Linked DNA regions of Homo sapiens: region 1 is linked to region 2. Evidence: fine-mapped QTL for protein levels in blood plasma. A gene starts in region 2. The other region holds a variant in brackets. All regions are shown on one strand. Distances are between the middles of the regions. Region 1 has its middle 3.0 kb from the start of COPS6. Region 2 holds the start of CNPY4 (canopy FGF signaling regulator 4).

The links. A credible set is the group of variants that fine-mapping cannot tell apart. PIP is the posterior inclusion probability: the model's chance that the variant is causal. The UK Biobank Pharma Proteomics Project read protein levels with antibody pairs (Olink). The fine-mapping took linkage between variants from a reference panel, not from the people measured, so its PIPs are less certain.
Region 1: its variant is the best candidate, but not a certain one, in a credible set for the plasma level of the CNPY4 protein (UK Biobank, PIP 0.53).

Annotation. Positions count from the first base shown.
Region 1 is chr7:100,084,737-100,087,236 of GRCh38, forward strand. No RefSeq gene overlaps it. Among named protein-coding and RNA genes, the nearest start is that of COPS6, 3.0 kb to the right of the region's middle. RefSeq lists an enhancer at 2,353-2,500. The variant C/T (reference allele first, on the strand shown) is at 1,303.
Region 2 is chr7:100,118,157-100,121,176 of GRCh38, forward strand. CNPY4 (canopy FGF signaling regulator 4) reads left to right here and starts at 1,478. Exons shown (of 6, transcript NM_152755.2): 1 at 1,478-1,706. The coding sequence starts at 1,589. It overlaps TAF6 (TATA-box binding protein associated factor 6), which reads right to left and starts at 1,202. Exons shown (of 15, transcript NM_139315.3): 1 at 1,048-1,202. RefSeq lists enhancers at 1,155-1,304, 1,515-1,734, 2,105-2,174.

The DNA of each region.
Region 1 (2,500 bases), 34 kb before region 2:
GCATTTGCAGTCCCAGCTACTTGGGAGGCTGAGATGGGACAGTCACTTGAGTTCAGGAGGTTGAGGCTGCACTGAATTGTGATTGTAACACTGCACTCCAGCCTGGGTGACAGAGCAAGACTCTGTCTCAAAAACAACAATAACAAACACAAAACAAAACAAAAACAAAAAAAAAGAAACGTTTAGCAAACTTAGTTCTAAAATGCGCACAATCAACTGATTCAATGTCAAAGTCATCCTTAAATTCCACAATAATCTCTTGTTTTATGAGCTGTATAATTATCTGAACAATGTTTCAAAAGCACCTGAAACAACAAGGCAAAGGAGTTCTTTAATGTGTGAGAGAGCAGTGCAAACGATCAACTTTACTAACCCTAGAATAATTCTCATCTTGTTTTTATTTTAGCCTTCTATCTAGCTGAGAAGCACTATGCTCCTTGGAAGCTGCCTAGCATTCTTTAAAGAGAGACATTTTTCTGGCCAGGCACGGTGGCTCACACCTGTAATCCTAGCACTTTAGGAGGCCGAGGCAGGTGGATCGGTTGAGGCCAGGAGTCTGAGAACTGACTAGCCAACATGCTGAAAACCCATCTCTACTAAAAATACAAAAATGAGCCAGGTGTGGTGGCGCAAGCCTGATATCTCAGCTACTTGGGAGGCTGAGGCACAAGAATCACTTGAACCCAGGAGGTGGAGGTTGCAGTGAGCCAACATCTCACCAAAGAGATACATTTTTCTGACCTGGTTTTTCCAAATAGAAACAAGGCATTAGGTACTTTTCTTTGACAACCCTCTCAGTTTGTCCAGACCTGGTTGGTTTATCACTGGGGACTAGAATAAAATAAATTCCTTTTTAACTTCCCTTTGGCGAGAAGACCCCTCTTCCTGCAGGATTTCTCAAGTCCGTTCCATTGAGGGTTGCTGGCCCCTTCAAGTTTCCTTCATCCAGGCTCCTAAACGGAGAGATTGCATAATTCCCCTGTAAATTACAACTATCACCATATGGGGCTGTTCAGGGTCATAACACAGTTCTTCACCTGCTTTCTAGGAGCTTACACTTTGGGTGGGGATACAGACACCTAGAGCCAGAGTATGTCTGGCTCTTTCTAGGTGTCTGTACCCCTCTTTGTAGGGGTGGCAGGAGGAGCAGTGTGTGCAACTTGCTTAGGTTTAGGGGTAAGGAGGGGGTGGAGCAGCCTAGGCTAGCCAGATGTGAATTTTGGGTTTTTTTATGAGACAGAGTCTTGCTTTGTCAACCAGGCTGGAGTGTGGTGGTGTGATCTCGGCTCGCTGCAACCTCCG[C/T]CTCCCGGGTTCAAGTGATTCTCCTCCCTCAGCCTCTCGAGTAGCTGGGATTACAGGCATGCACCACCACGCCTGGCTAATTTTTGTATTTTTAGTAGAGATGGGGTTTCACCATCTCTACTGGTCGAGACCAGGCTGGTCTTGAACTCCTGACTTCAGGTGATTCACCCACCTCGGCCTCCCAAAGTGCTGAGATTACAAGCATAAGCCACTGTGCCTGGCCAGGAACTCAGTATTTAAGGGAAGAAAGCATGCAAGAGGAAAATAAGGAAGAAGGAGAGGCAGTGAGGCAAATGTTTTTTGTTTTGTTTTGTTTTGTTTTTCTTAAGACAGTGTCTCGCTCTGTCAGCAGGCTGGAGTGCAGTGGCGCAATCTCGGCTCACTGCAACCGCTGCCTCCCAGGTTCAAGCGATTCTTGTGCCTCAGCCTCCCAAGTAGCTGGTACTACAGGTGCGTGTCACCATGCCCAGCTAATATTTTGTATTTTTAGTAGAGACGGGGTTTCACAGTGTTAGCCAGGATAGTCTCAATCTCTTGACCTTGTGATCTGCCTGCCTCGGCCTCCCAAAGTGCTGGGATTACAGGCGTGAGCCACTGCACCCAGTCCAGCAAATGGTTATTTTATTTTATTTTTTGAAATAGAGTCTCAATCTGTTGCCCAGGCTGGAGTCCAGTGGGTCCATCTCGGCTCACTGCAATCTCCACCTCCTAGGCTCAAGTGATTCTCCTGCCTCAGCCTCCCAAGTAGCTGAGATTACAGGTGGGCACCACCACACCCAGCTAATTTTTGTATTTTTAGTAAAGATGGGGTTTTGCCATGTTGGCCAGGCTGGTCTTGAACTCCTGGCCTCAAGTGATCCACTCGCTTCCCAAAGTGCTGCGATTACAGGCATGAGCCACTGCACACCCTGCTGCACATTGTTACTTTTTTGTGAGTTTCTCATTAGTGTTCAGTAAATCTACATTTTATGTAAGATACAATAAACATTTGAAAAGAGGGAGTGGAGGAAAAAGTCAGTTATGCATCTGTCTCAGGATAGGTGGAGGGATGATTCCTGGTCTCTTCCTTGTTCTATAATTGGGAAGATAAGCTTGTAATCAACATTGTCAGTATGAGATTTCACAGAACTCGGATTAGGGCTGGTTTATAGGGGGAATGTTTATGCTGAAAGATTCAGAGGCTAATGAGGAATTTCCT
Region 2 (3,020 bases):
CCCTGGCCAACATGGTGAAACCCTGTCTTTTTGTAAAAACACAAAAATTAACCAGACATGGTGGCGGGCGCCTGTAGTCCCAGCTATCTGGGAGGCTGAGGTGGGAGAACCGCTTGAACCAGGAAGCGGAGGTTGCAGTGAACCGAGATCGTGCCACTGCACTCCAGCCTGGGCGATAGAGAGAGACTCCATCTCAAAAAAAAAAAAAAAGCAAATTGGAGCCAAGAGAGGTAACTCACCCCAGTAATCCCAGCACTTTGGAAGGCAGAGGTGGGGGGATTGTTTGAGGCCAGGAGTTTGAGACAGCCTGGTCAACATAGTGAGACCCCCATTTCTGCAAAAATTAAAAAATTAGACGGACCTGGTGGTGTGAACCTGTCATCCCAGCTACTTAGGAGGCTGAGGCAGGAGGATCGCTTGAACTGAGGAGTTGGAGGCTGCAGTGAGCCAAGATGGTGCCACTGCACAACAGCCTGGGTAACAGACGGAAACCCTGTCTCAAAAAAAAAACAAAAAAAAATTAAAGTGGCACACTTGCAGTTGGACATTAGGAAGATTAACATATCAATACTGCTTAGGAGTAGTACAGGTAGGGTGGGGCCGTGCTGGAAGGATGGGAAGAGGGAGGCCGAAAAACAAATTGGTTCTTTTCAAACCATCCCTGATCTCCTCCCCGACTTTTATAAGTCTTATCTATAGGGAACACAACTATTCGAGACATACTCTGTGCCTGGCGCCGGGTTTACAAGAGGGGGTCGTGTCCCACTTCCCTGGCGAACTCCTACGAATCCTTCAATACCCGGCGGTACCCTCTGCCAGTAAAGGCTCATAAAACACGCTACAGTCACAGGATCTCCTCAGATCAGTGGAGGCGGCAGGAAGGCGTCCCAGGGAAGGGTTAACTTAAGCGAGATCCCAGCAGAGAAGCAGGTCGAAGATCCCCGGGCAGCGCGAAAGGAGGTTCAGAGAGCCCACCCCATCTCCTGCAACATCTCTCCAATGCAGGCACACACACGGGGTCCCCACGAGCACAGACACACAACCAACCGTCCTCTTTCCAGTCCCCACAAGGGACCTTCAAAGGGTCTCCTCCGGGGTACCACTCAGACCCGCCCCCGCCACCCGAGCGCGGGGAGCAGGAAAACTCTAGCGGCAGCCGAGACGCTGCTCACCCGGCGCTCGGCGCCATCTTGGCCCCGCCCCCTCGTGGGAGCAGGTCCTGGCAGAGCCTAAGAGCAAGTCACTGCCCCTTCCCCGTACCAGAATAAGTCCTCTAGGCTCGCAGAATGAAATTATATTTTAAAAGTTTGTTTCTACATCTATATATAAGGAGCACTCCCTCTTGGTGTAATTACTGCAATTTATTCCTTCACTACCCGGCTGCCAGGACCTTCAAGAGGCGCCACAAAACGGAGGCAGGGAAACCCGTAGCAACGAGGCCCCACCCTTGTTGGGCTGATCCTGCGCATGCGCCGACCTTCCTCGGCTGGATTTAAGGTTGCCGCTAGCCGCCTGGGAATTTAAGGGACCCACACTACCTTCCCGAAGTTGAAGGCAAGCGGTGATTGTTTGTAGACGGCGCTTTGTCATGGGACCTGTGCGGTTGGGAATATTGCTTTTCCTTTTTTTGGCCGTGCACGAGGCTTGGGCTGGGATGTTGAAGGAGGAGGACGATGACACAGAACGCTTGCCCAGCAAATGCGAAGGTATTTGAAGGGGGTAGCCCCTATAGGCATCGCCCGGCCACACCTCCTTCTTCTAGGCCGGACATCCTAGCCTGTATTGGGTGGGTCACCCGACCTCCTTGAAGGCTTGAGGGAGGTTCTGGTGGAGCTTGGCTGAATTTGGATGGGGTCAAGGAAGCGAACGTGTAGTGCCACCTCAAACTGCATCCAGAGAGAGCCTGCATTTTTTTGGCTGGCTTGGAACCCCCCGCCCGCCAATGGATTGTGGGAATTGTAGTTCAGGGACCATCGGCCCGGGACTGCCAACTTTTAGAGCATCTTCAGTGAGTGTTTACCTCATGTCACCAGACCTTAATCTGCAGAGGCTGCAGGAGCCGGGTGTGAGGCTCAGGCCTTGTGGACATCCGCTGCCCTACCCTAGCATAGACGCTCCCAAATTACAGGCCCCACACCCCGCTGAGGGGGTTTGAGGGTGAGTAATTCAGCCTTTGAAGCTCATAAACAAAAGGAAGCCACACAACTAGGAGAGTGTCCCCATCCGGTGAGACTTTGCAGACGGTGCGTACTATATGGATTTTTCAGCAAGCAGCGCCTTCCATAGCTGCACTAGCGTGGGGCCCAGTTGAGAAAGGGGGCTGGCCCTGATGCCCTAGTTTGCTGCCCTCCTGACTTTACGTTTCTTCCCTGGATTCCTTTTCTCTTCGCTTCACCCCCTCAACTGTATTCCAGTATCATGAAAGGCAGTCATGACAGTCTCATGACTTGGTCCTCATCTCTGTCTCCTTTCACCTCCGTGTGCCGCTCTTCTCCCCTGACCTGTCAATCTTTTTAAACAGACTTAATCACCTAATTGTATCAGTCCTTGCTTTAACACCTCTGCAGGCCTTCTATCAGAATACAGCCAACGGGCCTGGGCACAGTGGCTCACATCTGTAATCCCAGCACTTTGGAAGGCCAAGGTGGGAGGATCACTTGAGCCCATGAGTTCAGGCCCAGCTTCACCACAGCTTGTCATCCTTGGTTTATCTGTCCCAACTACACTGACAGAGACCTGTAGATAGAGATAATAGGTCTTATTGCTGTCTATATTGTTAGTATGCATACAGAAGGAGCTCAATAAATAACTGCAGGATAACAGTGAATACTTATACAGTGCTCACTATGTGCCAGCCTTTATATATGTTGATTTATTTAATCTTCATCACACTCCTATGAGGGACATACTATTATTATCCAATTGTATTAATTTTATATATATATATATATATATATATATTTTTTTTTTTTTTTTTTTTTTTTTTTTTTTTTTCTCTTTTCAGACAGCGTCTCATGCCG